Regions from separate parts of the Homo sapiens genome. Here region 2 is linked to region 1. The links come from fine-mapping of genetic effects on plasma protein levels. Region 1 holds a variant in brackets. A gene starts in the other region. All regions are shown on their reverse strands.

Region 1 (17,365 bases):
GTAAGCCTTCCAGTTTGTGATACCTTCTTACAGCAAAGATTGTTCAAGGTCTGGCCTGAAAGAGAGGCAGCTGGCACAGCCCTGGAGGAGGAGCAGGATTCGGTGGGAACATCCTGATACAATTAGAAATAAGGAATAAGGACTAACATTTATTGCTCAAGAAATGTGCCTACTACATGCCAGGCCCCATTCGAAGCCCTGTACATGTATTAACTCAAGCAAGTAGGTACCATTATAACTCTATTTTACAGATAAAGAAAGGAAGGCATAGACAGGCGATGTGATTTGCCCAAAATCACACAGCTAGTAATTATCAGGGCAAGAATTTGAACCCAGGCTGTCTGGCTCCCAAGCTGAGGCTCTTAATCACCATATCATCTGCTTCAACAAAATAAGTGAGCAATCAGTGTTATACCTAGGGCCTCCATAAAATACTGGGGGACACTTTGGGAGGCTAAGGCAGGCAGATCACTTGAGGTCAGGAGTTTGAGACCAGACTTGCCAACATGGTGAAACTCCGTCTCTAATGAAAATGCAAAAATTAGCCAGGCGTGGTGGCGGGGGACCTGTAATCCCAGCTGCTCAGGAGGCTGAGGCAGGAGAATCACTTGAACCTGGGAGGCAGAGGTTGTAGTGAGCCAAGATCAAGCCACTTCATTCCAGCCTGGGCAACAGAGTGAGACTCCATCTCAAAAAAAAATACTGAGGGAGTATTGAATTGGTCTCTCCAATCCCGTGTGTGTGTACATAAATATATATATATATATATATATATATATATATATATATATATATATATATATAGAGAGAGAGAGAGAGAGAGAGAGAGAGAGAGAGAGAGAGAGACAGGGACTTACTCTGTCACTCAGGCTGGAGTGCTATGGTACAATCACAGATCACTGCAAACCAGACCTCCTGGGCTCAAGAAATCATCCCACCTCGGCCTCCCAAAATGCTGGGATACACCAGCCTGTGTTCTCATCGGTAAAATGGGAGTGAATAACCCACCACTTCACAGGGCATAATGTACTTGTCATGTGGCTGGCACAGAAGGAACTCGCTGATTGTTCTGACCCCCAGTGGGGGGCTGGGAAAACTCATATTCTGCCCACTGCCTTCCCTGTTCTCTGTGCCTGGTAGAGCTTATTCTGATTTCCATTTGCAAACAGATTCTTCTTCCCCATCTTCTGACCCCTCTGGGAGGCCTAGCATCCAAGCACACTCCTGACAGGAGCGCCAGGCGTGGGTTTCTGAGGGCAGCTCAGAGGCACAGCCAGCTTGAAACAGGCACAGTCATGCCATCCGCTGAGCCTGCAGGCTGTGTACATGGCCCTTGCCATGAAGTGGACATGGTCAGAGGCAAAGATGCAGGGCAGGATGCATGTGTGTGAGCGCCCAGCTATCCACGTACATGTCTGAGCACACATGTGGGTGCATTCACACATGTGCTTGTGAGCGTTGGGGGGATCTTCATATGACACTCTCTGCTTCATGGAATTGGCATTTGCTCATTCATCCTGTGAGTATTTATTGAGTGCCTACTATGTACCAGGCTCTGTTGTAGGAGCTGGGGCTACACCATGAGCAAGACAATTAAATGACTTGCCCTTGTACGGGGAGGCAGACAGTAAACAAGTCATGTCAGACAGTGCATTGGAAGAAATGCGCTGGAAGATGTAGAGTCAGCTTAGGCTGCATAACAAAGTACCACAGACTGGGTAGCTTAAATCAGTGGTCCCAACCTTTTTGGCACCAGGGACGGGTTTCGTGGAAGACAGTTTTTCCATGGATAGTGGGGGGGATGGTTTGGGGATGATTCATATTATATTTATTGTACACTTTATTTATATTATTACCACACTGTAATATACAACGAAATAATTATATGACTCACCATAATGTAGAATCAGTGGGAGCCCTGAGCTTGTGTTCCTTTTTTTTTTTTTTTTTTGAGACGAAGTCTCTCTCTGTCGCCCAGGCTGGAGTGCAATGGCGCGATCTTGGCTCACTGCAACCTCCGCCTCCTGGGTTCAAGCAATTCTCCTGCCTCACCCTCCTGAGTAGCTGGAATTACAAGCGCTCACCACCGTGCCCTGCTAATTTTTGTATTTTTAGTAGAGACAGGGTTTCACCATGTTGGTCAGGCTGGCCTCAAACTCCTCACCTCGTGATCCACCTGCCTCGGCCTCCCAAAGTGCTGGGATTACAGGCGTGAGCCACCAGGTCCAGCCTGAGCTTGTTTTCCTGCGACTAGATGGTCCCATCTGAGAGTCACGGGAGACAGTGACAGATCATCAGGCATTAGATTCTCATAAGGAGCATGCAACCTAGATCCCCCGCATGAACAGTTCACAACAGGGTTCACACTCCTGTGAGCATCTAATGCTGCCGCTGATCTGGCAGGAGGCAGAGCTCAGGCAGCCATTCGTGTGATGGGGAGCGGCTGTATATACAGACGAAGCTTCTCTCCCTCACCAGCCACTCACCTCCTGCTGTGTGCCAGGTTCCTAATAGGCCATGGACCAGTACTGGTCCATGGCCAGGGGATTGAGGACCCCTGGCTCAAATAACAGAAATTTATTTTCCCACAGTTCCAGAGGCAGCAAGTCCAAGACCAAGGCACCCGCAGGGTTTCCTTGGAGGCCTCCCTCCTCGGCTTTCCTCCCCATGTCCTCACACGGCCTTCCCTCTGTGCACCCTCATCCCTTGTGTTGCTTCCCCCTTTTAAAAAGGATACCAGGCCGGGCACAGTGGCTCACGCCTGTTATCCCAGCACTTTGGGAGGCCGAGATGGGTGGATCACGAGCTCAGGAGTTCAAGACCAGCCTGGCCAACATGGTGAAACCCTGTCTCTACCAAAAATACAAAAAAAAAATTAGCCGGGAGTGGTGGCACGTGCCTGTTAGTCCCAGCTACTCGGGAGACTGAGGCAGGAAAATTGCTTGAACCCCAGAGGCAGAGGTTGCAGTGAACCAAGATCGCATCACTGCACTCCAGCCTGGGAGACAGAGCAAGACTCTGTCTCAAAAACAAAACAAAACAAAACAAACAAACAAACAAACAAAAAGGACACCACTCAGATTGGATTAAGACCCAGCCCTACTGGCCTCATTTTAACTTATTCACCTCTTTAAAGACCTTATCTCCAAACACAGTGACATTCTGAGGTACTCGGGGTTAGGGCTTCAACCTATAAACTTTGGGAAGGACACAATTCATCCCATAACTGCTAAGAAAGTGGGGGTGTTTTTTTTTTTTTTTCAAAGATGGGATCTCACTATGTTGCCCAGGCTGGTCTTGAACTCCTGGCCTCAACTGATCTTCCTGCCTTGGGTTCCCAAAGTTGGCAGGGGTGAGTAGGATATTTTAGTCAAGGTGGTCAGGGAAGGCCTCTTGGAGGAAGTGTCATTTGAGCTGAGGTCTAATCAGGAGATCTGGGGAAAAGAGAGTCCAAGTAGAGGAAAGTATAAGAACAAAAGCCCTGAGGCAGGATCGAGTTTGAGGTCTCTGAGGAACAAGAAGGCCACACTGGCTGGACCTGAGGTTGGGGGTGATGGCAGGCAGGGACGGGGTCAGCAGGGCTTTGTAGGCCACGGGAAGGAGTTTGGATTTTATACAATCCTTCTCCTGCTTCACTAGAGGCCATGGGATGTGGTAAGAGGTGCTGGGACATAGTGATGAATCTGACTCATCTTCCCCATTGCCCCCCCACAGCTCTGACCCCTGCCCAGGTGCTCCCAGCCAGGCAGGCAGATAAGGAGAGGATTTAATCCACTGTGATCATTCCTGAGGCAGAGGAGGTAAGGGAGACCCTGAGGCCCAAAGTGCTAGCCCTGCCTGAACTAGTTAGGTTAGTGTCTCTGGCGGGGCTGCCAGACTCTTGATTTGAGATGAAGAAGCAGAAGCATATCCCAGGCAGAGAGACCTGTGTGGGCTAAAGCCTGGAGAAATGAAAGGGCTGCTGGTGAGCTCTGGTAGGTGGGAGATATGGGACAGGGCAGCAGCAGCACCTGCCACACAAACATCCACTACCTGGGAGCTGGCTAAGGAAATGATGGTCAAGCTGTACCAGAGAATGAAGCAGCCTTCTCTCTGCAGATACAAAAAGATCTCCAAGATGTATTAAGTGCAAAAATGAAAGTATAGAACCACGTTCCTGATAAGCTACCATTTGTATATAAAGCATGTGTGGGGGTGGTAAATATGACGACATATTTGTCCTATTTACATTTGCATAAAGAAACTGGAAGGATACACAAGGAACTAAGGCATGTGGCAGGTGATGGGGACTAGGCAGGTGAGGACGATGCAGGAGTTAGCCTTGTTTTACTGTGTGCCTTTTGAATTGTTTTTGTTTTTGTTTTTGTTTTGAGATGGAGTCTCACTCTGTCACCCAGGCTGGAGTGCAGTGGCATGTTGTCGGCTCACTTCAACCTCCACCTCCCAGATTCAAGTGATCCTGCTGCCTCAGCCTCCTGAGTAGCTGGAATTACAGGTGTGCACCATCACGCCCTGCTAAGTTTTATTTTTTTTAGTAGAGACAGGGTTTCACCATGTTGACCAGACTGGTCTCCTAACCTCAAGTGATCCACCCACCTTGGCGTCCCAAAGTGCTGGGATTATAGGCATGAGCCACCACACGCAGTCCTGAATGTAATTTTTGAAACCCATAATCATGAAACTCATTCTTAAAAATTGAAGAGCAAGAGTACAGAGGATGCGGCGCGGGAGCTGAGGTCACCAGGGCTGAGGTTGCTGTCATAGTATAAAAAGAGACATACTGCAACTGTGAGATTAACAAGAGCCATAGGACCCACTTAAGCATCTCACAGGCCGGACACCAGGTGTCACTTAGCAGTTGATACAGCCTGGCCCCAGGATTTCCAACCCTGGCCAGGGGATTTCCAGAAAACAAGACCACCTCAGCACAGATGCAACTTTCATAAACCTTGAAACAAAGCTTCCCCTTACAAGAATAGCTTAAACTTCTTTTTTGAAAGAAACACCTGGCGACTAACCTAGACTGAACCCAGGTCTAGGGAAGGGAGAAGGATCCCCCAAACTCTGAGGATGGTCTCTACACAGAGACCCTCCTGGTCAGCTGGTCCTCTGACCTCCTAAGTGTATCTGGCCCGTGTCATTGATGTCTGTCTCGTAACAGCACAGCCAAAATAAATCACTTGAGGCCGGGCACCATGGTTCATGCTTGTAACTCAGAACTTTGGGAGGCCAAGGGAGGAAGATGGGTTAAGGCCAGGAGTTCAAGACCAGCCTGGGCAACACAGCAAGATCCCATCTTTTTTTTTTTTAAGAAAAGGATAAACCGTTTGAGCATCAGGCAGTGTCTAAGACTCATCTTTGACACGAATCAAACCAAAGGAGAGAAATCGCTCGTGGGGAAGCTGGTCACCTAGGACCACCCGAACACAACAGCTGCTTATGATTTGGGCAGTAGGGAGCCATGGAAGGATTTAAAGGTAGGGAGGAGGTGTGTGACGTGATCAGACTTGTGAGCAGCCAGTGCGGAGAGTGGTTCACAGGGGGCAGCATGGAGGAGGCAGGTGTGACCATCCAGCTAGTGCCTGGCCTCTGATCTAGGGCAGAGACAAGGAGGTGGGGTGGGGAGCAGAGCGTTGGAGGGGGAAGGGACAGTAGAAGGCAGAGCTAACGAGGCTCCACTGCCAGGCAGGGATGCTAACCAGCTCCTTCCCCTCGGAAAAGAGGTGGATGTCAAATCTTGAGCCCCGCCCAGCCACACTGGCCCCTGATAAATCCCCTCTGGCCAGTCATTACTCTTCTCACGTGCAGCCCCCTAATTGCCCAGAGATGAAGTGTCTGAGGCTGCCCTCTTGCCATGGCAGACAAATGCCTGTTTGAGCAGAAGCCGGAGGGAACAGGACAGATGGGGTCCTGTTCAGCTTCCCTGCTCCCAGATCCCGGGCCTCGCTGCTCCTGTGGGCTTTGGGAAACCAACAAGGGTTTGTGTTTAATGAGGCTGCCTGCTCATCCATCACGCAAGGCCAGTGCCTTGACGACAGCAACCACCAAAGATGAGGGCCAGGCCAGGGTCCCTGAATCAGAGCAGGGTGAGGGTGGGGCAGGCTCAGTGCAATCGAATCCAGGCTGTGTAAATCACCACACCTCTCCAGGCTGTGATTTCCTCACCAAAATGGGGATCATGTTTTATGTGGCAGACATTGCATGTTAACAACTCTACACCCACTTGCTCTACTTCTTTAGGAGGAGAATCACATTTGTTTTCAGGATGGGGAGGAAAGGTACCACTGAAAAAACTCACTCTTCCCGCTTCCCTTGGAGCAGAGGCCACTATGTGGCAAGAGATAACACATAAGGCCGGGCGCGTTGGCTTGTGGCTGTAGTTTCAACACTTTTGTAGGCAGACGCAGGAGGATCGCTTGAGCTCAGGAGTTTGAGACCAGCCTGGGCAACATAGCGTGACCTGTCTCTACAAAAAAAAAAAAAAAAATTTCCGGGTGCGGTGGCTCATGCCTGTAATCTCAGCACTTTGGGAGGCCGAGGTCAGTAGATCACCTGAGGTCGGGAGTTCAAGACCAGCCTGACCAACATGGTGAAACCCTGTCTTTACTAAAAATACAAAATTAGCCGGGCGTGGTGGCACATACCTGTAATCCCAGCTACTCGGGAGGCTGAGGCAGGAGAATCGCTTGAACCCAAGAGGCAGAGGTTGCAGCAAGCTGAGATTTCACCATTGCACTCCAGCCTGGACAACAAGAGTGAAACTGTCTCAAAAAAAAAAAAAAAATTAAGTTAGCCAGGTGTGGTGGCACACACCTGTAGTCCCAGCTACTCAGGAGGCCGAGGTAGGAGGTTCACTTGAGCCTGGGAGGTTGAGGTTGCAGTGAGCTGTAATCACACCACTGCACTCCAGCCTGGGTGATGGAGTGAGACCCTGTCTCAAAACAAAGAAGCAAACAAAAGACAGAAGACATGGGGCATTTGGAGATGAGATGCCTGGAAGTGCAACAAGAGGGTTAAAGCCGCACCCCAAGGGTGCTAAAATGTGAAGATCAAAGGTGTCCAAGTCCCTGGCAGCTTCATGGAGCCACTAAGTCACCTGGGGCTGCCATATCCAGACTTCTGAATGGCACTGGGGTTTGAATGCCTCTGTGAGGACGAAAGACAAGGCTCCTGGCCCTGTGAGAGCCCTCCAGCTGAAACTAGGCTCCCTACATCAGGAAAAAGCTGGAAGTCAGCTGTTTCTTCTTGGGACTGGAAAAACTGCCCAATAACCTTGGGCTGCAGCCTAGAAGTGGGTGTCTTGCCCTGGGCCATAGAAAAAAAAAAGTCACCCAAGATAAACTGAAAAAACAAACAAAGCAAAAAGAAAGAGAGAAACTCAATAGGTGGGTTTGACAGTAGTCTGTCATATTCATTTACTGGCCCTGTCATAATAAAACAGTAGAGTGGCTTAAGCAACAGCAATCTATTAACTTTCAGTTCTGGAGGCTAGAAGTCCCAGATCAGGGTGCTGGTGTTTGGTTTTATCGGAGGTCTTGCTCTTTGGCTTGCAGACGGCCACCTCCTTGCTGTGTCCTCACATGGTCTCCCTTGCGCATGCTCATCCTTCCTGCCCCTTGGTGCATCCACATTTCCTCTTATAGGGACACCAGTCAGATTGCATTAGGGGCCACCCTGATAGCCTCATTTTAACTTAGTCACCTCTTCAAAGACCCTATCTCCAATATAATCACACTCAGAAGTATTGGGGGCTATAGAACACCTATCAGAGGTGTTCGCCCAGAATACAGCACAGAGAGAGATAAAGAAATGTGAAACATAAAGGGGAAGTTAAGATGGAGGATGAAATGAAATGATCCATTATATATCTAATAGGATGTACAACAGGAATAGGAATTCCAATAAGAGACAGTAAAGAGGATGTGGGAAAAGCAATAAAGGAAACTATAATAGGGGCCAGGCATGGCCCAGAACTTTGGGAGGCTGAGGCAGGCAGATCACTTGAGGTTAGGAGTTCGAGACCAGCCTGGCCAACATGATGAAACCCTGTCTTTACTAAAAAATACAAAAATTAGCCAGGTATGGTGGCGGGCACCTGTAATCCCCGCTACTCAGGAGGCTGAGACAGGAGGCGGAGGTTGCAGAGAGCTGAGATCACACCACTGCATTCCAACCTGGGTGACAGAGTGAGACTCTGTCTCAAAAAAATAAAATAAAATAAAATAAAATATAGTAAAATATAATATATAAGAATTTTTCAAATTGAAGAAAGCACTGTCTTCACAGAGAAAAGCCATAGTTCAGAGTGGGATAAAAATAAATCTAGGCTGAGTGCAGTGGCTCAAACATGTAATCTCAGCACTTTGGGAGGCCAAGGCAAGAGGATCACTTGAGTCCAGGAGTTCAAGACCAGCCTGGACAATATAGGGAGACTCTGTCTCTACAAATAATTTTAAAATTAGCTGGGTGTGGTGGCATGTGCCTGTGGTCCCAGCTACTTGGGAGGCTGAGGCAGGAGGATTACCCGAGTTCAGGAGGTCAAGGCTGCAGTGAACTATGATTATGCCACTGCGATCCAGTCTGGGTGACAGAGCCAGATCTTGTCTCAAAAATAAACAAATAAATAAAATCTACGCTTAGGCATGTCTAATTGCACTTGGACAACTTTAAGGGTAAAGAGAAAACTTTTGAAGCTGCCAGAAGGGTGGGAAAGACAGATTCCTTTCAAAGAAACAATTAGACTAAAAAATAGACTTCTAATTAGCAACAATAGGAGCCAGAAAGGAGTAGACTAATATCTCCAAACACAGTGAAAAAATACTTGTCAG[C/T]CTAGAATTCTATACCTAGCTAAACTGTCACTGAAGAGTGAGATCAAAACATATTTCCAGGTTGGGCGTGGTGGCTCATGCCTGTAATCCCAGCACTTTGGGAGGCTGAGGTGGGTGGATCACTTGAGGCCAGAAGTTCAAGACCAGCCTGGCCAACAAGTCGAGACCCTGTCTCTGCTAAAAATACAAAAATTAGCTGGGTGTGGTGGTGCACACCTATAGTCCCAGCTACTCAGGAGGCTGAGGCATGAAAATAGCTTGAACCCAGTGGGTGGAGGTTGTGCCACTGCCCTCCAGCCTGGACAATAGAGCAAGACTCTGTCTCAAAAAAAAAAAAAAAAATATATATATATATATATATTTCCAGATATACATGATTTAGAGTTTACTACCCACAGGCCCTCACCAAAAGATTAAAGGATGTGCTTCAACAAGAAGGAAAATGATTAAAGAGATAGAGAAGTGAATCCCATCTTGGTCATGTTATTTGAGTCTTTGATCAAGTTCAACCTGAAGATACTCCTGAACTTTTCAGTTTCAGGTGCCCACAAAGTCCCAATTCATTGAGGGACGGGGAATGAGTTATAATGTTCTCTCATTTTCAACCAAAAGAGCCCTGATTGACACCACAGCTTTCCCATAGATGCTAACTAAATCAGTAAGATCGGTTCCCCCAGCTTGTTGTTTGAAAGAGGTAAATAAATATGTGTTAAATAAATGAAACATGGTCCCTGTCTTTGTGAATCATGGAATCTCATAACTATTGATCAGGAGAGTTCTGAAGACATTGAATCTTGGACTCTGTCCCCACCTGTGACATCCTAGTTTATCTGGTCTTTGGACCAAGACCCAGCCCATCTAATGAGATTTCCTTCCTGTTTGTAATCCCCACACCACCACCAGCACCACCACCACCACCATCACACACACACACACACACACACACACACACACACACACACTCCTATTAAGCTCACTGTCCCTCCGGGGCCTGTGCCCACGACACCCTCACAACCCCTTCTCTGTTCCCTAGCGCCACCTTGAACACTTGCCAGGATACGGCTCCCAGCACTGCAGTGTGGTTGGTGAGCAACAGCAGAACACCCACGTGGCTTTTATTCCTCGAGCATCCCACTGACATGTGCCATGTAGTGTCAGATTTGGGGGTGACTTTAGGCAGGTGGAAGCAGACTGGGAAAATGAGGTGGCTGAACTTGATCTCTCCAAGGGTCTTACAGCCACAGTGAAGGGAGCCATCAAAGAGCTGGGTCTCCCAGTTCCCCACCTCAAATAGAGTCGGTCCCTCATGGTTTCTCTTATATATCTGGCTTTGATGTAAGATATTCCTTGGAGAAAGGGCTCTGTAACAAGTTTTGTTTTTGTTTTTGTTTTTTTGAGACACAGTCTCACTCTGTCACCCAGGCTGGAGTGCAGTGGTGCAATCATGGCTCACTGCAGCCTCGACCTCCCAGGCTCAAGTGATCATCAGACCTCAGCCTCCTGAGTAGCTGGGACTACAGGCACGCACCACCATACTAAGCTAATGTTATTTATTTATTTTTTTTTGAAGAGACAGGGTTTCACCATGTTGCCCAGACTGGTCTCAAATTCCTTAGCTCAAACAATCCGCCCACCTTAGCCTCCCAAAACTCTGGGATTACAGGCATAAGTCATGGTGCCTGGCCTATAACAAGTTTTAAAGATAAATTTGGAGCTGGCTATGGTGGCACACAACTGTAGTCCCAGCTACTTGGGAGGCTGAGGCAGGAGGATTATTTGAGAACAGGAGTTCCAGGCTGCAGTGAGCTATGATCAAACCACTGTGCTCCAGCCTGGTCAACAAGCAAGACCCCATCTCTCTTTTTTTTTTTTTTTAGACGGAATTTTGCTCTGTCCCCCAGGCTGGAGTGCAGTGATGCAAACTCGGCTCACTGCAAGCTCCACCTCCCGGGTTCACGCCATTCTCCTGCCTCAGCCTCCCAAGTAGCTGGGACTACAAGGCGCCCGCCACCATGCCCGGCTAATGTTTGTATTTTTAGTAGAGACGGGGTTTCACCGTGTTGGCCAGGATGGTCTCGATCTCCTGACCTTGTGATTCACCCACCTCGGCCTCCCGAAGTGCTGGGATTACAGGCGTGAGCCACCGCGCCAGGCTGCGAGACCCCAACTCTTAAAAAAAAAAAAAAGTTTTGAAAACACCCAGAGTAGATGAAATCTTAAGATCCCATGCAATTCAGTGCTCCACGATCCCTCTGAAAGTGTAGAGACCAGAGAGTGATGGCAGAGACCTTGGGCATCCCAGAGGCCCACCGCTCCCCGTGGAAGACATCTTAGGAAGATGTCTTCTGCCCGCCCTGCTCCAGACAGATTCACCCCGCACCTTTGCAAGGGAAGAAGTCAGTGTAGCGTCCCGCTGCCCTCCTCACTGGGCTCCATGGGAGTATTCGGGCCCAGGCTTGGTGAGATGACCTGGAATAGCTCATCGTGCCTGGGAGCCCCCATTTCCCCTAATGGGCTCATCAGCACAGGCTCCAGCACCATGTATCCTGTTGGCTGAATCAGGCAGTCAGTTTCCAGAGCCCTGAGCTCAGCAGTGGGTGGGGGCTGCGAATTAGGACTCTAACCCAGAGGAGGTTGATGGACTCGTCGCCGTTTGTAAGCCGGAGCACAGGGTGTTTGGTCCGTCCAGCGCCCCCACAACTGCCACTCTTGCGGTCAGACAGACGTCTTCTGGGAGGCAAGTCCAGTTGGCCCCTCGGTGAGAGCGCAGGAGAAGCAGGCAGGCCCGTCCCTGGGAGACCGCCAGAGAAAGCCTGCAGGCATTGAAAGTCCCCAACTCGGCCGGGCGCGGTGGCTCACTGCACCCGCGGTGGTGATCCCAGCACTTTGGGAGGCCGAGGCAGGCGGATCACGAGGTCAGGAGATCAAAACCATCCTGGCCAACACGGTGAAACCCCGTCTCTAATTAAAAAAAGTACAAAAAATTAGCCAGGCGTGGTGGCGGGCGCCTGCAGTCCCAGCTACTAGGGAGGCTGAGGCAGAAGAATGGCCTGAACCCGGGAGGCGGAGCTTGCAGTGAGCCAATATCGCGCCACTGCACTCCAGCTTGGGCAACAGAGTGAGACTCTGTCTCAAAAAAAAGAAAAAAAGAAGTCCCCACCTCAAAGGCATAGCCCAAGGGCAAGTGGGCAGGGCCCTGGCAGTGTCCACCCAGTGGTGCACAAATGAGGTGGTGGCCTCCAGGACAAGAGGAAACAGGGCCTCCCACTGTCAGGATCCCCTCTCCTTCTCTTCCTTCTTTCCTCTGTGTATTAGTGAGGGTTCTCCAGAGAAACAAAATCAATAGAAGACACGGAAAGGAGACAGCTAGATTTCTCTTAAGGAATTGGCTCACACAGTTGTGGGGGTTTGCAAGTCTGAAATTGGAAGGGCAGGCCCCGGGCTGGAAACTCACGCAGGATTTTATTCTGCAATCTTGAGGCAGAATTTCTTCTCTGGGGAAGCTGATTTGCTCTTGAGGCCTTCAACTGATTGGATGAGGCCCACCTACATTACCAGGGATGATCTCCTTTACTTTGAGTCAATTGATTGTAGATGTTAAGCACAGCTACAGAACACCTGCACAGCAACACCGAGATTTGCATTTAATTGAGTTATAGCCTCGCCAGGCTGATGAGATTTGAGCCTCACACTCTGCTTCTCTTCATGTCCCTAGCCCTCCTGTCTTTGCACAGAAAGGCTTCTCCATGGGGTGAGCGTGGGGGGCATGGTGACCAGTAGCTCTGGGCTCCTGTCTTTCTGACTACATGACCAGAGAGGAAGGGATTCCTCTTCCCTGTCTCCAGTTTAAAAATTCCCAGCAAGGATGGACCCAGGAGTCTGGGTATGAAATGAGATGATGGCATCGTCTGGATCCTAAAGCGGGCGAGGGGGTAGTGGGGAGCGGCCAGGGACGATTCCCCCAGAAGAGAGGAGGAACACACACTCTTGAAAGGAGGAAGTGCCAGTGGCGAAGCAGGACCTGCCCCCACAGGTCTCCTCCTGCAGGCAGGTGAGGCTGCGCCCAGCCTTCCCCTAAATCTCTGCCTGCACCTGCCAGCCTAGACCCAGCTCCTCCCGGCCCCACCACAACCCCATCAAGGAACATGAAGAAGCCTGAAGCCTTCTCACTTCCTTTTTTTTTTGTAGACAGGGTCTCACTCTGTCACCCAGGCTGTAGTGCAGTGGCACAATTATAACTCACTGCAGCCTTGACTCCTGGGCTCAAGCAATCCTCCCACCTCAGCCTCCCAAGTTGTTAGGACTACAGGGGTGCACTACCATGCCCAGTTAATTATTTTTTTATTTTGTAGGCCAGGCACAGTGGCTCACACCTGTAATTCCAGCCCTTTGGGAGGGCTAGGTGGGTGGATCAACCTGAGCTCAGGAGTTCAAGATCAGCCTGGGCAACATGGCGAAACCCCATCTCTACAAAAAATAGAAAAAATTAGCCAGATGTGGTGGTGCATACCTGTGGTCCCTGCTACTTGAGAGGCTGAGGTGGGAGGATCACTTGAGCCTGGGAGGTGGAGATTGCAGTGAGCTGAGATCATGTCACTGCACTCCAGCCTGGATGACAGAGTGAGGCCCTGTCTCAAAAAAAAAAAAAAAAAAATTAGAGTAGGATCTCACTATGTTGCCCAGGCTGGTCTATGAACTCCTAGCCTCAAGTGATCCTCCTGTCTCAGCCTCCCAGAGCACTGGAATTATAGGCATAAGTCACCATGCCCGGCATTTTCCCGCCTCTTAAACACATTCCCCCATCATCGTTGTTTCCAGGGTATCTACTATGGCCTAGATGCTTGACACCCATTTCTCCTTTAATCAATGTCTCCTTAGTCAACAACCCTGGGAGCTTTTACAGAGGAGAAACCCAGAGAGGGGAAGGGACTTGCTCAAAGTCCCTCAGCTATTAAGCTGAGGATCCAAGACTTCGACTCAGAGACACAGAGGAGGAATTTCACACGTCTGTATGAAGCCAAAGCCCAGGACAGAAACTTCTCGCAGAAGCATGCTACTTCTCGCAAACAGCCTTTCTGGAAAAGCAATGAAGATTCGGGGTTTTTTATGATTTGGGCCAGACCTTGGCCCCCCTGGTTGGCTCAGAGGCGAGGCCTGGCTGTGGGGAAGGTATTTGAGAGTGAAGGTGTTTGTGTCCTTCCTCTGCCACGTCCTGGGCTTCCAGCTGCCAGCCACAGCTCTGACAGCAGACTTGCCTAAACCCCCTCATCTAATTAAAAAATAAAATCAAAGAAAGAAAACTTTTTATTACACTCTTCTAATGGTAGAAAATAGTTTCAGGCATAAAAAGGCGCTCAGCTGGCTACTTCCCAGGCATCAAAAATTAACAGCCACTACATTTTATTCCGAGGAATTAATGGAAAATTTTACATGGTGGTGTAAAATGCAGGGGACAAGATGAAGGACATGACTCTTCGTTGAACAGCTCAGTCCCTCGCTTGCAGCAAAGACACTGCTTTGGCCGCCTGCTCTGAGCAGGAACCATGGGTTCACAGGGGGCCAAGTGTGTTATGTGGGGGATGGAGGGGAGAGGTGGGGGGAATTGGCTGCAGCCTCTAGGGAAGCTTCTGAACCTCCCATCTGCACACACCTCTGAACCCTGGCCCCGTCAAGTTGTCATCTTTCCTGCAAGATCCCTTCACCCTGAATGATTGCTGATGGTCAAAACTTCAGACTCAGGGGCAGTAGGCCTGGGTTCTAGCCCTGGTTATGCCTCAGTCTCTCCATCTGTCAAATGGTCACTAGAACTCCAGGATCCTGAATCTCTGAATCCTATGTAAAATAAACTTGGTCTGTATCTTCTCCTAAAAATAGGAGCAAGAGCCTGGGCTTTGAAGCTGGGCAGACCTGGGTTTGAATCCAAGCTCGGCCACTCATCAGTTCCATGGCCTTAGGAGAGTCACCTCTCTGATCCTCAGTCGCCAACTCTGTAAAATGAGGACAATAGGACACCCCTCTGAGGAGGGCTGTGTGATGTAGATAACAGTTTGTCCCACCTTCTCTAGCTCCAGGGGCCCTCAAGTGAACTCCCAGCAACACAGGCCCAAGCTCCTTTTCTCCTTTTCTTGTTTCCACAAAAGAGTTTATCCTGAAACATGCCAGTGAGCAGTGAACACTACAGATGCCTACTGGGGCTAGTGGAGGGGAGGGTTTACATCACTCACTTGACAGCAAACCCCTGACAAGCCCTTTGGACCATGCTGGAAAGAGAAATCAGTTACTCCCTGGGGAGTGGGATGGAGTGGGCAGGGAGCAGAGGGAACTTTTCAGAACATAATGTGAGCATATTTGGGAAAGGCAATGTGCAATTCACTGTTATGTCTGTGCTTTTCCTTTTTTTTCTTTTTTTTTTTTTTGAGACGGAGTCTCGCTCTGTCGCCCAGGCTGGAGTGCAGTGGCATGATCTCGGCTCACTGCAAACTCCGCTTCCCAGGTTCACGCCATTCTCCTGCCCAGCCTCCCGATTAGCTGGGACTACAGGCGCCCCCCACCACGCCCGGCTAATTTTTTGTATTTTTAGTAGAGATGCAGTTTCAGCGTGTTAGCCAAGATGGTCTCGATCTCCTCACCTCGTGATCTGCCTGACTCGGCCTCCCAAAGTGCTGGGATTACAGGCGTGAGCCACCCCGCCCGGCCATCTGTGCTTTTTCTTTAAAATGTTCCTGAATCCAAATTTTAAGTTTCTAAATATATTTATTTTTAAATAATTATTTACATGTTTAATCATATTGGCAATTAAGTTATGCAAGGAGCTGTAAGCTCAGGGTGAAGTCCCCCTCCTCCTCGGCTTCTGTCCACTCCACGGCCTCAGGCGCCCCCTTGCCAGCTGTGTCCTTGCTCCTTCTCCAGCCTGGACCTTTCTCCAGACCACAGGGCCTCCTGGGCATCTCCCCCAATGCCCCACGTCCCACTCGGAGGGTCCAACATTGAGCATAGTGCTCCCCACCCCCACCCCCAACTCCTCCTCTGTGTCTCCACCAGCCACCCAGTCGTGAGCCAGGGTACTGGGCGCCATCCCCGCCACCCCCCTACTCCAATAACCACCCCCATGGATTCCACCTCTAGGACCTCAGTTGAGTCTGTCACCTACTCTCCACATCTGTCGCGCCAACCCTAGTTACCATCTCTTGGCTTACCGCCCCATGCCTGGAGCTTGGGCTCAGCCGGCAGCCTCACTGTTTGAGAGCCCCGCACGCCAGGCTATGTCCTGCTGCGGTACCTCTGCTCACACCACGCCCTCTCCCTGGCCTGCCCTTCCCTCTCTTTATTTCTCCACCTCGTGTGCCCTACCTCATCTCAACCTCACACTTAACTCATTTCTAGACACTCTGTACATCACCTTCTAGCCTGGTTCAAGCAATCAACTGCCTTCGAAAACACGTGATGAGCACCTGATGTCTGCTGGGGACACAGCGCTGAGTCCCTGCCCTCAGGGAGTGCCCAGTCTAATGAAAAAGACAGACACAGACAACTAAAATCCTGTTTTGATGATGCCGGGGTGAAGGGTGCTTACAGGACTGGATAGAAGAACCCCCGACACAGCTGGGGGATCAAGAACAGCTTCCTGGGGGAGGTGGGGTTTCGGTCAGGCCTCATAGGCGGAGGACGTATTCAGCCCACACAGTTGGCAGAGGGCACAGCATTGGTAAAGGCCTGGGGTCACCTAAACAGCCTCAAGAAATCTCCTCCCGGAGGCTCCTTTGCCATAAACCTAGGCTGGGAGCATTTCCAATTCCTTGGAGCACTGCCCAGAGGAAAACTCTCTATGAGGATGAAGATTTATTTATTTGGTTGTAAACTGAAAGCCAGACCAACGCAGGGCATAAAGAGGAGGGACGATAAAGAGCTGGCAAAGGATGGCGCCCTGCAGCCCGGGGACCCTGAGCCCGCTCTCCCCTCTGCCGAGGACAGCGCCCTGCAACCTGGGGACCCTGAGCCGGCCCTCCCCTCTGCCGAGGACAGTATCCTGCAGCCGGGGGACCCTGAGCCGACCTTCCCCTCAGCTCAGTGCTCCTCCAACAAAGGTCCCGTCACAAACACGTAGCAAGCGCCTGCTGTTTACCAGCCCTGTGCCAGGCGCCGGGGATATAGCAGCGAACGAGACAAAGCCCCTGCTATCAACCAGAGATGGACGTGGACCTGGCAGTGACAGGCCAGGGCTGTGCTGAGGCAGCAGGAACCCTGGGGCCTCGAGAACCCAGAGGCAGCCCCTGGCCTGGCCTGGCAGGTGTAGAGGAGCAAGAGAGGGTAGACAGAGACAGCGTCCAGGAGCCAAGGCCAAGTGAGGGAAGAGGGTGTGCAGGATGCCCCCCAGCTGTGCCCTGGGGCCTCTGTGTCCTCAGGGGCCCTGACATGAGACCACCACCATGGCCCTGCTTCTCCCACCCCTCAACTCGCACCCCACGCAGCCACCCCAGACCTCCTGCTGCACCCCCGTCTTTTTTTTTTTTTTTTTTTTGAGACAGAGTCTCGCTTTG
Region 2 (7,649 bases), not on the chromosome of region 1:
CTCTGGGCTTGTCAGAGTGCCTGAGGTCCTGCCATATCACTTCCCAGTCCTGAGTGTTCACAGACTGAAGAAGCTCAGTTGGTCCAGTTCAGGAGCAGTCTCTGCTGCCTGCCAGAATTGAGACTCTGGGCAGGTCTCATCCTCTCCCTATGCCTCAACTTCCTGTTCTATAAAATGGGGACAGTAATGATGTCTAATAATACCTGTGAACAGGTTGTGAGGATTCAATTATGTAATGTATAAAACCGGAAGCACTTGGCCGTGGTCCCAGAACACACTCAGCATGCAGCAAATGGCAGCAATTGTGGCATTATTAGAGTCATTTCTACCATGCTTTAGTGGCATTGAAATCACCTGTTGCTGGGACCTGTCACATACCTGTGGCTGCATCCTATCCCCTAGCACTCCCAGAGGCTAGGCACAGAGTGGGTGCCCCCTAATTGCAGATGTGGAGGAAAACTGACTCACCCACCTAGAAACAATGCTGAACTGTCACTGGTTTGATTCTTGCAAAACCCTCAGTTACATTCTCCTCCTCAGCGACTGGCGAAACAAGGATGCTGATAGTCTGTTTAATATTAATAATAAAGAACATTGCCCCAATGCCCACTGTGTGCCAGGCACTGTGCTGGATGATCCCCTAACTTCTCTTGAATCCTTACAATAAAGAAGGCTTTTTAACCCCCTTCCCAGTTACCAGAAAAGAAAACTGAGGCTAACAGCATTGAAGTCTCTGCCCAAAGTCACTTGTCAGAATCTGGGTGCTCCCATGCTTGCGGACAGGGGTGAGGATGAGAGAAAGAAGGGAAGACAAGCAAGAGAGGCAATCTTACCAGTGACACCAGCCCCTGCGAGTGCCGTGAAGCTCGGCCAGCGGGAGGTGGCATTTATACCTTCCCCAGAAGTGCCGGTGCCAAGATGAGTGACCGCTGTGCTCCTGCGAAAAGCAGGGTGAGAATGCTGGATTAAGCTCTCACCAAAGCTCGGGTCAGCAAATGCCCACAGACATTGTGTCTCTGCACAATAATGTCATTAGCTTTCAGATTCGGCCGCGCCAGGGCGGTCAGGCGGCTGGGCAAGGAGATGCCCGCTTTGCATGCATCAGCCGTCCGGCTGCCAGGGCCAGGGGTACGCTGGGTTCACTGGTACGGTCAGTCAGGCCGTGAGGCATGGCAGACAGAGGAACATCTCAGTGGGCCTGGGGAAGAACAAGTAAAGAAGGGTGGTTTGGCAGAGTCTGGGCTTCATTCATCTACCCATTTATTCATTCAACAAATATTTGTTGGGCATCCACTTGGTGACAATCTCTGTTCCAGGGGAGTGTCAGGAAGAGGACCTACGCCAGCCCAGGCCATTCAGAAAAGCTCCTGGGAGGTAGCGCATCCCTCAGGGATGGAGAAGAGGAAGCCTGGGAACAGGGTGGGGGGACAGTTCCAAGCAGAAAGGGTCCATATACAAGGAACCAGCATGGTGTATTTCAAGAAGACCTGAAAACAGGTTAACAAAGCTAAAGCATGACATGTGACAAATAGGGCCTGTGCCAGGTGGCCAAGGTGGGCAGGGCCTGATGTTGCAGGGCCAGGGAGGCCAATTATGGAGAGTGCATTTTATTCTCAAGGCCCCTGGCTGTTTCTCTTTCTTTTCTTTCTTTCTTTCTTTCTCTTTCTTTCTTTCTTTCTTTCTTTCTTTCTTTCTTTCTTTCTTTCTTTCTTTCTTTCTTCTCTCTCTCTCTCTCTCTCTCTCTCTCTCTCTCTCTCTCTCTCCCCTCTCTCTCTCTCTCTCTCTCTCTCTCCCCCTCTCTCTCTCTCTTTCTTTCTTTCTCTTTCTTTCTTTTGAGATGGAATCTCACTCTGTCACCCAGGCTGGAGTGCAGTGGTGTGATCTCGGCTCACTGCAACCTCTGCCTCCCAGGTTCAAGCGATTCTCCTGCCTCAGCCTCACCAGTAGCTGGGACTACAGGTGTGCGCCACCAGGTCCAGCTAAATTCTTTTTTTTGCTGTATCTTGTTAGAGACAGGGTTTTGACATGTTGCCCAGGGTGGTCTCAAACTCCTGAGCTCAGGCAATCCATCCACCTTGGCCTCCTAAAGTGCTGGGATTCCAGGCATGAGCCACTGCACCCGGCCTGTTTCTTAACCACTGTCCTAGAGTGAGTTGCTCTTAGATCCCTACCACTGGCCCCATCGCTGCCACATGGGTGCCCAGCCTTTACTCACATTTCTTTTCTATTTTTTTTTTTTTTGAGATGGAGTCTCGCTCTGTCGCCCAGGCTGGAGTGCAGTGGCACGATCTCAGCTCACTGCAAGCTCTGCCTCCCGTGTTCACACCATTCTCCTCCTTCAGCCTCCCTAGTAGCTGGGACTACAGGCGCCCGCCAACACGCCCGGCTAATTTTTTGTATTTTTAGTAGAGACGGTGTTTCACTGTGTTAGCCAGGATGGTCTCGATCTCCTGACCTCATTATCCGCCCGTCTCGGCCTCCCAAAGTGCTGGGATTACAGGCGTGAGCCACCGCGCCCGGCCTTTACTCATGTTTCTTTAGTGCACACACCTTCCTTGCAGCCCAGGCTGTGTCTTGATCCAATCTGAGGCTTGGAGACTGGGTCAAGTATACCTGCTTTCCCCTGTCTCTCATTTTCTTAATGCACATATGCATGCACACGCATGCACACACACTACACACACATGCCCCAGCCCCCTAGCTGGGCTTTTCCTTTTGCAGCACTCATCACTACCCAACATTCTGTTACTCATTTATTTTCTGTCTTTCCAATGAGAAGATAAGCACCACAAAAGCAAAGAAGTTGTCCCCCTGGTTTACCATGGTATCTCCAGAGCCCAGTGCCTGACGCATAGTAGGTACTTGTTTTAAAATCCCAGGGCTGGCCGGGCACAGCGGCTCACGCCTGTAATCCCAGCACTTTGGGAAGCCAAGCCAGGCGGATCACCTGAGGTTGGGAGCTCGAGACCTGCCTGAGCAACATGGAGAAACCCCGTCTCTACTAAAAATACAAAATTAGCCGGGCATGGTGGCACATGCCTGTAATCCCAGCTACTCGGGAGGCTGAGGCAGGAGAATCACTTGAACCCACGAGGCAGAGGATGCAGTGAGCCAAGATCATGGCATTGCACTCCAACCTAGGCAACAAGAGCAAAACTCTGTCTCAAAGAAAATAAATAAATAAATAACATAAAATAAATCCCAGGGCTGCTGTAATAAAGTGTCACAAACTAAGTGGCTTAAAAACAACAGAAATTGGGAATGTAAAATGGTGTTGCCACTACGGAAAACAGTGTGGCTGTCTCAAAAAAAAAAAAAAAATCCAACATAGAATTACCATATGAGCCAGCCATTCCACTTCTGTGCACGTGCCCCAAAGAATTGAAAGCAGGGAATTGAAGAGATATTTACACACCCATGTTCATAGCAGCATTATTCACAATAGCCGAAAGATGGAAACCACCCAAATGTCCATCAACGGATGAATGGATAAACACTATGTGGTCTATCCATACAATGGAATATTATTCAGCCTTAAAAAGAAAGGAAATTCTGACTCCAACATGATGAGGTTTGAAAATGTTATGCAAAGTGAAATAAACCAGACACAAAAGGACAAATATTGTATGATTCCACTTACATAAGTTACCTAGGGTAGGCAAATTCATGGAGACTGGAAGTAGAATAGAGGTTACTGGGGGCTGGGAGGAGCGGGGAATGGGGAGTTATTGTTTAATGGGTACAGAGTTTCTGTTTGGGATGATGGAAAAGCTGGGGATGGATAGTGGTGATGGTCCCATAACAATGCCACTGAACTGTACTCTTAAAAATGGTTAAAATGGTTAATTTTATGCTATGCAGTATTTTACCACAAAAATGTCCCCCAAAAAACCCCAGAAGTTTATTGTTGTGTAATTCTGGAGGCTGGAAGCCTGACATCAAGCTGTCAGCAGGGCCATGCCTGCTCCAGGGGTTCTAGGTGAGGGTCCTTCCTTGTCTCTCCCAGCCCTTTGTGTTTGCCGGTAATTGTTCATGTTCCTTGGATGGGAGGTGCATCACTTTAATCACGTGACTGTCTTCTCCCTGTATCTTCACATCATCTTCCCTTAGTGCATGGCTGATTCTATGTCTAAATTTCTGTGCCTATAAGGATACCAGTCATGTTGGCTTAGGTGACTTCACTAGGCAACTTCACCCTGATGACTTTGTTTCAAATTGGTTCCTTCTGTAAAGACCCTATTTCCAAATAGAAGGTCACATTCTGAGGTACTGGGGGTTAGGACTTTGGAATATCTTTTATGGACACAGGTCAGCCCATAATAGACCTCAGTTAATATTTGTTGAGTAAATGAATGGATTCAAGACCTGGCTGTGTCCTTATAAATAAGAAAGAATTCCTAACATTTCGATTGTATCAGAGCTTGACATGAGTCAGGCACTGTCCATACTCATCTTTTTTTAATCCTCCCAACAAACTCAAGATGTAAGTATTGTATTTATTGATCATTCCATTTTATAAAAGAGAAAATTGAGGCTCAGAGAGACTAAGCCACTTGCCCAAATTTGCACAGCTAGTGAGTAGTAGGACTAGGCTTTATGGATTAAGCCCTGAAACTGTCTGGTTCCATTAATTCAATCCTCACAACTATCTTTGAAGTAGGTATTATTAATGTCCCCTAATACAGATAAGGAAGCTAAGGCTCATAGAGCTTAAGTAACTTGTTCGAGGTCACACAGCCAGGAAGTGGTAGGACCAGTGCTTGAACTTACATCAGTCTGACTTCAAGATAAACGTTCTTAACTTTTAAACTATAAAGCTTCCTACTGAGCTCTGGGAATTTAGTGAAGTTTTTCTTCTCCAGGCCTCAATTTCCCCATAAGAAATGAGGTCCTTGGTGCCAAGACCAGCTCGGTCAGGGAGACCCTAACCAGTGGCGCTAGAGGAATTAAAGACACACACACAGAAATATGGAGATGTGGAATGGGAAATCAGGGGTCTCATAGCCTTCAGAGCTGAGAGCCTCGAACAGAGATTTACCCATGTATTTATTAACAGCAAGCCAGTGATAAGCATTGTTTCTATAGATTATAGATTAACTAAAAGTATTCCTTATGGGAAACAAAGGGATGGGCTGAAATAAAGGGATGGGTCTGGCTAGTTATCTGCAGCAGGAGCATATCCTTAAGGCACAGATTGCTCATGTTATTGTTTGTGGTTTAAGAACGCCTTTAAGTGATTTTCCACCATGGGCGGGCCAGGTGTTCCTTGCCCTCATTCTGGTAAACCCACAAACTTCCAGCGTGGGTATCATGGCCATCACAAACATGTCACAGTGCTGCAGAGATTTTGCTTATGGCCAGTTTTGGGGCCAGTTTATGGCCAGATTTTGGGGGCCTGTTCCCAACACTTGGTCCCTGCACCATGTATTAGGTTGGTGCAAAAGTAATCATGGGTTTTGGCGTTACTTTTGATGGGAAAAACCACATTTACTTTTGCACCAACCTATTATTCTCATTGAGGAAGCAGTCAGGGTTTTCACTGGCTGATAGGAGTGGTAAAACATGCTAGGGAGATGTTTATTATTCCTATTTTTACAGATAAGCAAAGTGAGGCTCAGAGAGGAGACTTTCTTGCCCAAAGGCTCACAGCCACGAAGTGGTAGAGCTGGGATTTGAACTCAGAGATCAGGATTTGTAGACTCCAAAACCTTCAGCCTAGCCTACTTCTCTTCTCTTACCTCAGTTTCCCACACTTGCGAAGAATTAAATATTTTGGCCCATGGACATTATAGTATTTGTAATTATACCCTTTGTAAATGAGCCAATCATGTGAAGCCCTCAGTAGCGGCTCTTACAAATATTATAGAAAGCGCTCAGTAACTATAGCTTTTATGCTATTCATTATTATTACATCTGTGTGGATGGCAATGTTTTAAAAGACTTTTTATTTCTTTTCACTCCCACACTCAAAGTAGGTGCCAAGACAGAGACCGTCAGCAACCTGCCTGTTTCTTTCTACTAATTCATTATTCATTTCTACTTCAAGCAAATGTGTCAACTATGAACTCAGTGGGGAGCAATACAGATAGGGTCCCCACCTTGGTGCAACTTACAGCCCATAGGTTCCTATGATCTCAAAATGTTTTGCCTTTTTAAAAATTTGAGATAGGGTCTTGCTCTGCTGCCCAGGCTGGAGCATGGTGGTGCTATCACAGCTCAATGCAGGCTCCAACTGCTGGGCTCAAGTGATCCTCCTGTCTCAGCCTCCTGAGTAGCTCAGACTACAGGTTTTCACATCTGTGCACAGCTAATTAAAAAAATTTTTTAGGGATAGGGTCTTACTGTGTTGTCCAGGTAGGTCGCGAACTCCAAGCCTCAAGCAATTTTTCTGCCTTGGCCTTCCAAAGTACTTGAGTTTCAGTCATGGGCCACTGCACCTGGCCCAAAAGCAAAGGCTTTTGATGTGACCTGGGTAGTTTGCTCATCTAGCCAATGAGCTAGGTCGTGGAGAGCTGAGCCATGGCTCAGTCATCTTCGTGCCCCCAGTGCCTACATAGGATCTAGCACATAGTAGGTGCTCAGAAAATACGTATTGACAGACTGAATTAATTAATGATAAAGAGCAGGGGTGTCTTCATTTGGGCTCTACCAGAAGCAGACGCTAAGACAACAAGTTCAGGTGCATATAATTTATTTGGAAAGTGATCCCAGAGGGCATCAGGAAGTAGGGAGTGGGGAAGCGAGCCAGAGAAAGGAAGGCAGGCAATTCAGGGTATATTAGTGAGCGGGTTATCACTGGGTCTTCTTAAAATTAGGGGGTGTCATGTGACTCATTCTGGTCAGTGGATTCTGAACAAACATGACTGGTGTAATTTCCAGGTGAAATCATCTTATTACAGGAGCCACACTTTCTAGTGCTCTCTTCTCTTCTGCTGTCCTGAGATGGCAACATTGCAAAATGGCAGAGCCCACACCAGCCTGGGTCCCTGAGTGACTCTGTAGAGAAAAGCCCCCCGCTGACCAGCACTAGACATCTTTCATGAGTGAGAAATAAGTTTCGTTGTTTTCAACCACCAAGAATTGGGGGCTGTTTGTTACTGCAGCATAGCCTGACAGATACATAGAGAGAAAGGACTCAAACCTTCCTCTCCACTTCATCTTCTTGCTCCCACGAGGAGAATAGGTCTTGGTGTTCCCCTTGGACAAACAATATTTAACTTTTAGATACAAAAGAGTCAGAGCTGGAAGGAGGCTCTGAGATCATCAAAAGGTGTTCTCATAGCTATCAGAAACAACACTCCCTTCTTACGACAATTTTTTGTAACAGCCCTTTTACTCTCTTGAAATAAAATTGATAATGTAACCCATCTACGTGCATGCTTTCAAAATAAATTAATAATAAAATGTCCTAACTCTAACTGTATTATAAAAGGATAATAAGGATAGAATGTATAAAAATATGTATTTTGGTATGTAAAAGCTTCAAACAGATGATGTAAGAAAGCAGTTAGGCAATTATTCCTATTTACAATGCATACACTTAGACAGGAAGCTAATATTAAACTTAATATGCGTTAGACATTTTCATTCACTCATGTAGCATTGCCATGGGTGACATTAACTTCCAAAATGGTAAAGAATGCTTGGTA

Alleles and levels. Positions count from the first base shown, and alleles are read on the strand shown. Strength reflects both the effect of a copy and how common the allele is.
As copies of T replace C in region 1, the plasma level of the protein whose gene starts at base 861 in region 2 goes up (weak association).

The links. A credible set is the group of variants that fine-mapping cannot tell apart. PIP is the chance, under the fine-mapping model, that this variant and not a neighbour inherited with it causes the effect. The UK Biobank Pharma Proteomics Project read protein levels with antibody pairs (Olink). The fine-mapping took linkage between variants from a reference panel, not from the people measured, so its PIPs are less certain.
Region 2: it holds the start of CRYBB2, and the variant in region 1 is the best candidate, but not a certain one, in a credible set for the plasma level of the CRYBB2 protein (UK Biobank, PIP 0.77).

Annotation. Positions count from the first base shown.
Region 1 is chr20:33,870,836-33,888,200 of GRCh38, reverse strand. No RefSeq gene overlaps it. Among named protein-coding and RNA genes, the nearest start is that of CHMP4B, 68 kb to the right of the region's middle. RefSeq lists enhancers at 4,439-4,698, 4,879-4,998, 16,939-17,365. The variant C/T (reference allele first, on the strand shown) is at 8,829.
Region 2 is chr22:25,212,851-25,220,499 of GRCh38, reverse strand. CRYBB2 (crystallin beta B2) reads right to left here and starts at 861. Exons shown (of 6, transcript NM_000496.3): 1 at 834-861.